2 linked regions of the Homo sapiens genome follow. The protein of the gene in region 1 interacts with the protein of each later gene in a pairwise test. Each region holds a gene or a part of one and is shown on either strand. Other genes may lie near its edges.

The links.
Region 2: the proteins of ATF6 (region 1) and DDC interact in a two-hybrid assay, tested with the Homo sapiens proteins (one large-scale study listed by BioGRID and IntAct).

What each region holds. Positions count from the first base shown.
Region 1 is NC_000001.11:161,772,643-161,776,469, forward strand, and holds part of ATF6 (cyclic AMP-dependent transcription factor ATF-6 alpha), read left to right. Parts: intron 1-3,827.
Region 2 is NC_000007.14:50,555,204-50,559,030, reverse strand, and holds part of DDC (aromatic-L-amino-acid decarboxylase), read left to right. Parts: intron 1-3,827.

The sequences.
Region 1 (3,827 bases):
TCCTGTTTCCTGCATCAGCATTTCCCCTCTCTACTAGATCATCTCTGTCAGTAAATGAACATGTTGTTGTTTCTCCTAGAAGTACTGTTTCTATATCTAGATAGTACTCTAGCTAGAGTTAAAAAAAAAAAAAACAAAACCAACAAACTCAAAACTCTCTTCAGATGTTACTTCACCTCTTGCTGTTACTGCATTTCTCTACTGTATGTTACAGCAGAATTCCTTTTAAAAAATGTCCACGTTCACTGACTCTAGTTTTTTATTTCTCCTTGTCTCTTGAACCCAGTCCAGTCAGGTGCCACCACTCCACTGAAACTCCTGTTTTTTTTTTTTTTTTTTTTTTGAGACAGAGTCTTGCTCTGTTGCCCAGGCTAGAGTGCAATGGCACGATCTTGGCTCACTGTAACCTCCACCTCCTGGATTCAAGCGATTCCCGCCTCAGCTTCCTGAGTAGCTGAGATTACAGGCGCCTGCCACCATGCCCGGCTACTTTTTGTATTTTTTTTTTTTTGAGACGGAGTCTCTCTCTGTTACCCAGGCTGGAGTGCAGTGGCTCACTCGGCTCACTGCAAGCTCCACCTCCCAGGTTCACGCCATTCTTCTGCCTCAGCCTTCCGAGTAGCTGGGACTACAGGCACCTGCTACCACACCTGGCTAAATTTTTTTTTGTATTTTTAGTAGAGACGGGGTTTCACCGTGTTAGCCGGGATGGTCTTGATCTCCTGACCTCATGATCCGCCTGCCCACCTTGGCCTCCCAAAGTGCTGAGATTACAGGCGTCAGCCACTAATTTTTGTATTTTTAGTAGAGATGGGGTTTCACCATGCTGGCCAGGCTGGTCTCAAACTCCCGACCTCATGTGATCCACCCGCCTCGGCCTTCCAAAGTGCTGGGATTACAGGCGTGAGCCATCATGCCTGGCCTGAAACTGCTGTTTTTAAGGGCACTACTGATTTCCACATTGCTAAACCCAGTGACTGTGTCTGATCTTATTAAACTTATAAGGAGTAAATGAATAAATAAATGGGCAAGGTGGAGGTGAGGTGGGAAAGTTTGTTGAGTACACTAAAAATAGTAACTACCATTATTTACTACTGTTGAGGGAAATCTAATAGTGTGGGACTGGTGCAAAGGATATAGAAATAGGCAATAGGTTTTAGGATACTTTGGGGTAACTGATGCTAACAGTTTCTTATGGATTCTTTTGGAATGTTCTATAAATATACGAGTATATTTATCAACCCACCTTCAGTTATTTTTTTAACCACAGAAAAGTCAAAAGATCAGTACACTGATAAACGTGCGTTTTCCTTATCTAGATTTACCAACTGTTAACATCGTGCCACATTCACTTTATATCTTAATATTACCCACACTTTCCTCCTTTTTCACATCTGAAAGTGGGCTGCAGATAATATGAAACTCCTAAACACTTCACCATGTATTTCCTAAGAATGAGGAAATGTTTATTTTTAAAAAGCATCAATTCATTTTAATATGCTTTATACTTCAAAGCTAACATCACAGGGTTCTTTTTCACCTTCTTGCACCATATGCTTGTATTTCTCTTCTGCCGCTATGAGAATCCTGATTCCCAATAACATCCTTTGTTTTTATAGGCTCACTTCAGCAGCTCTGTTGGAAATAAACTGAAAGAGGGGCAAGGGCAGAAGCAGGGAGACGTTTTGGAGGCTGTTATAGCAATCCCCATGAGTTACAATAGTAGCAGTGGAGTAATGAGAAGTAGTTGGATTATGGATATGTACACACACACACACACACACACACACACACATACACACATATATATACATACATTTTAAAATTTTGAAATAGTTTGAAATCTATAGAAAAGTTTTAAGAACAGTGCAAAGAACTCTTGCATGCCTTTTACACAGACTCCTCAGTTGTTAAATTTTACTGCATTTACTCAATTTCTCTCTTTCTCCCTTTCAAGAGAGAGAGATGTGTTGACCCATCACCTTTAAATACTGTAGTGTATACTCTCTATCCTCCTGCCTCCCAAAAGAAGGCCACTTTCCTCTATTACTACCCTATATTTCTTCCAGTCAGGAGATAAACATTGATACAACAGTGTCATCCAATTCAAAGACACCATTCAAAGTTTGCCATCTGTTTCAATAATGATTTGCTTTTCTAGTCTAGGATTTTACTTGCAAACACTCATTGCTTTTACTTATCATGTCTCATCAGTGTCCTTTAATCTGGAACAGTTCTTTAGTCTTTTCCTGTCTCTAATGTCCTTGACAGTCTTAAAGAGTAGAAGTCTTTTATTCGACAAGATGATCCTAAACCACTAAGGGGTTCCTTGGAAAAATGACCAATTCCAGGGCTGGGAAAGTGCAGGGAAAGTGCAAAATAAGCCTGGAAAATCTTGGGCCAGAAATTCTCAGCAAATGAACATGTTAAAAAGAACAAAGGCCCCAATATGAATGAACTCCCCGTGGTCAAATCTGGGAAAATTTGGCATCAGAATAAAATGAGGGTATACATTATAGTGTAAATACTATGCGATGTTCCTATGCCATCATATCATCCTGTGATATAGTCACATGATCACTTGGTCAAGTTGGTATCTTCTAGGTTTCACCACTGTAAAGCCACTGCTTCCCATTTTGTATTTTATTGCTATTTTGGGGGAGATAATCTGACATAACACCAATATCCTTTTCTTATTAAACCTCTAACCACGAGCCCTAGCCTCATTAATAACCCCAATCTATATCAGTTACCACTCTAATGGTTGCCAAATGGTAACTATCTAACTCTATCATTCTGTCTATCATTCTATCATTGTTGATTGACATTGCACTATAAGAACCAACCTACCTACCTACCTTCCTTCCTTCCTTTGTTCCGTGATGAACTCATTGATTCCTTTTTTATTTGGTGGTTGGTAAACCGCTACTCTCATTTTATTCTGATGCTCAGATTTTCCCAGATTTGACCACTGAGAATTCATTCATATTGGGGCCTTTGTTCTTTTTGACATATTCCTGTCATTTGCTGAGAATTTCTGGCACAGCAAGATTTCCAGGCTTATTTTGCACTTTCCCTGCTGCAAGCCCTGGAATTGGTTATTTCTCCAAGGAACCCCTTAGTGGACTTCTGTTTGGTGGAAGATGGTATTTAGTATCCAAGATCTGGTCACCCAGTATTTTCATTGCTACTGGGATGTCATTGCTTCTAGGACCTCTTAGCAGACAGAACTAGGAAATATATATACATGTGTGTATATATATATATATGTGCATGTGTATATATGTATATATGCATAATACAAACATCTGCATATGTGTGTACATATATATATACTTCCACAGCTATCTGTATGTGTTATATTTTAAATGAGTTTATTTACTAATACTTCTAGTTCTAATCCAACATCTTAGGATTCTTTTAGTCTCCCGACTCTTTCCATGCTCTTAAATCCTTTCTCAGACTGTGAGAAATCTGACTCCAATTATTTTAGTAAAAGGCAAAAGATTCATTCGTTCTGAAGAGAAACCAGAGCATTCTAATTATTTTAGATATATTCAACCATTTGCTCAGTCACCTAACATATTTGTTCAGTATGACCACTCTCCTAACCACTCAGCCTGCGTTTTCCATCTGCTACTCCATTCCCCCTCCCACTGGGCTGGGGCATGCTGGCATCTTTGCTGGGCAATAGTCTCTCCCACACCATCCTATTTCCTTGGATATGAGGCATATTGCTGGAGATGACTGTGCACAAAACCCCATCACCTTTGTTGCCCTGCTTCTTTGGAAGCTGACATCTCTGTGTTGGGAGGGGTAGGGAAGAA
Region 2 (3,827 bases), on another chromosome or scaffold:
GGAGAGGCACTTCTCTTGGGGCATGGAGGGCAGCAGAGTTTGTTGAGCCTCTGCCTGTTTCTGTTGGGATCAGCCCAGGTGGGTGGAGGCAGACGTGTGTCTGCGGGCTCAGCACTCCCACCCGAAGCCACATTCCCCTGTTCTCTCATGTGCAGTGAACCAGGCAGGAGCCCTGGACCACACTCTGGGTTGCAGGCACCACCTTCCCCATCCCCAGTGAGAGCCCTGTTTAGAGTCCTGTGGTCTCATCTCTGGCCATGGTGAGGACACAGGCAGCTGACAGTGGAGGTGTAAGTGGATTCCCAGGCCAAAGGTGTGTTAGGAAAATGCTGGCTTCAGAACACCAGCACCCACTCCTTCACTTACTGGCTGTGTGGCTGTGGTCAAGTTAAACAGCAATAACTCTACTGGCCTGGCAGTGTTGTGAGCGTGTTCAGTGAGATAATGTATACCACGAGCTTATCAGGAGCTTGAGCACTGCTGATTTGTTTGGTTTCTTGGACAATAGGATGTGGCAACCAAAGTTCAACAGATTCTCAGGATTTTTTCTTGGAGGGGGGCACCTCAAGTGCAGGCTTCTTAGCAACACCAGGCCCCAGGCCAGCAGCTGTTCAATATGAGGAATAGGGAAGCATTCACTGTGAATGTAGAAGTCAATATTTACCACCAAATTGGCTCATAAGGACTCCCCAAAGAGTGTACCAAAGCATACTAAATAGATTCACAGTGCAGGTGTCCTGTGTTTGTAATAGACGGTAAACCAGGACATGTCATGGGCACTGGATATTATGACTATGATGAAAAGAAGCAACCAACTAGAACATAATTCGAATTGTCTCAAGCCAATAGCAAAGGCAGATGGTTATGATCTCTTGTGAACTATTAATGTGACTGCAAGAGAAAGGGGGAAAGAATTGAGAAAAAATAAGGGAAAAAATTTGTAAGGGGGGGGGTGATTTCTGAAAAGTTTCTTCTGACATAACTCTTCAATAAAATGAAAACAAAGGAGAAAAGTTAAAATTACCTAGTAGTTATCATATAAACTTTCAAAATTAGCAACCATGAATGAAAATAATAAAATTTGAATGTTTTAAGGTTTAAAGTTAAAATGTGAATGAAGGAGCAAAGCTTACAGAGATGGAGTGTCTATGCTCAATGCCTGATGGTGGGTGACATTTCTGTATCATTCCAGTTTTTCAAAAAGAAATTGACAACACGCAAAAAGAACTGTACAACTCACATGTCTCAATTCCACTGGGGAATTAATATCTTTGAGAGACAGACCCAATAGGTGCGACCTATATGGTGATGGTGGGGTGGCATCTACTCATGACGGTGCTGCCCATAACAGCAAACAGCTAACAGGCAAAGTGGGGATGGATGGTGTCATAGGAACACGGTGAAATCCCCACTCAGCAGCCCTTAATAAGTGCAAATAGGAGCGTTATGTTAAGGAAATTCTGCACCTTGTAATTAGGCATAAAGGAAAAATGTCAAGTGAAAAAAGGATCCCCAGTCATACACACATCCTCATTCCAACTATTTGAATTGTCTACGGTCAGGACTAAAATGGAATAATATCAATCAGTTTCATGTCCTTGGCATTCTTTTTTGTCTTTGGAAGTTGCTCAAGTTATGAATTTTTCCAGCCAGCATTAACTAAGGTCACAGCATGGTTACAGAGATATGAGTGGAAGTAGCATCTTTCCATGGGAGGAAAACTGAAAACCAAGACAAACTTCTCTATGGCTCCTTTCCACGGATAATTGTTGGCCAAGAATCTACTTTGACAGAGCATTGTTTATTAAACAGGGAATGAATAAGAAACAGCTGCACAAAGCTCCTTCCTCCTTCATGTCAGCAGAGGAGCAAGGCTTTCCCCTGAATTTTGATCTTTGTTTGTTGTAGAAAATTTCTCCCTTTTCTCTTATGCTACCTCAGGAGAAGAGGCTTCTGCCTGTCTTTTGTAGCATCAATAATAATAATTGCTAGACACAGGTTTACAGTCCAAAGTGCTCTCTGCCTGCATGAGCTTGCGGCCCCATTTTATAAGTAAAGAAACAGACTCAGAGACTCCAAGACGTCAGCCAGCAGCTGCATGCCTCTTGCCGCAGAGCTATGGGCTCAAGCTGTTTTCTCTGAATGCAAATCCACCATTCTTTCTATTCTTCATGAGGAGGAGGAGGAGGAGGACTGTCCTGTGGAATTGTAGTGCTGAAAGCTTAGCTCCACTTGATTGTGGCAGTTCCATTTTCCAACGCAGACCAATCTCGCCAAGGAGGCCAGCTGGGCGGAGTGGGACTTAGGACCCAGTGCAAAGTCCCTTACAGGAGTTCCTTTCTGGACAGAAACTCCCTTGAGATGATGGATTTGATTCCTCCTGAATTTGCACAGGTGTGGAGAGTGAAATGCTATGCTTCGAGCATCTACTTTGTAATTATCTTGTACTCTCTTCATGGTTTTGTGTGGTGCCTAGGATGATGGCCATGGTACAGATTGCAAGTGGAGCTGCAATGGAGTGGACGTGTGTGTTTCTCCCAACATTCCTATGTTGAAATCCTTGCCTGCAATGTATTAGGAAATAGGAACTTTGAGAGATGATTAGGTCATGAAGTCAGAGCCCTCATGAATGGAATGAGTAACCTTATAAAAGAGACCCTAGAGAGACCCATCACCCCTTTCACCATGTGAGGACATAGAGAGAAGGCTATGTCTATGAGAAACAAGCCTCACCAGATACCAAATCTGCCGGGGCCTTAATCTTGGACTTCCAGCCTCAGAACTCTAAGAAATCATTGTCTGTTGTTTATAAGCTGCCCAGTCTATAGTACTTTTTATAGTAGCCCAAAGGGACTAAGATAGGGGGCTTGGCCACGGTCTCACCTCCAGCCAAGAGCTGCCCAAACCCTTTCTCTTTCTGGTTACCATTTGTAACGAACATGATCTATAAGCAAACAAGGCACCGTGGAAGCTGCGGTGCCCCTGTGGTCCTCAGTAGGCATTCGGGAAATCATTCCTTGCAGCCCTAGGAGAAACTGGTATTACAAGTTTCTAATCCTGAAGTTACTTAAGCCATGCTCTTTTCATCAACTGATATGCATCTGGCTACAGCTGTTAGAGATGCTCTGTACCTGTGTTTGAGTCCAGGACATTCTCTCAGGTGCCTTCAGGAGCCAGACTGCAGGAATTCAACTGTGGCCTCATCTGACTACAGCAGGTGTGGAGTCTTGGTTCAGTTGTGCAGCCTCTCTGCGCCTCGGTCTTCTCATCTGTTAAAGGGAGTAATAGTAGTCCTGACAAGGTTCTTATGAAGATTAAATACGAGAACCAGGCAAAGAGCTTAACGTGGTTCTTGGCACATGTAAGTTCATATCAATGTTAACTATTTTTTAGACCAATGAGAGAGTGCCTATTTAAACAAGAACACCCGGGTTTACATAAAAATAGTGGTACAAGTGTAAGACAGTCGCAAGTGTGTGTGCGTATGTGTGTGTGTGGTGCCCTGGCTTTATTGTGTCAATTATAAGTAGAGACACTTTGGCCTACAGGATGAAGGAAACAGGGGTTCTGCCTTGGCTTTGCTGCAACCAGCTTCACACCTGGGACAGTCCTTTCCTTCTCTGGGTCCCAGGTCCCTCCCTTTTAAAATGAGCATAGTAATAGCTCTCACCAATAAAGCATTAAAGGAGCTAAGATGTCAGCCTGTCCTGGGTCTCGTTTCCAACAGATCTCTTGTCTCCCCCACTGACTCCAAACCACACAAGCCATGCTTCTCAGGAACCCAGGACACCCGGATTGTGGTAGGGTTCTGCCAATGGGAGGTTTAG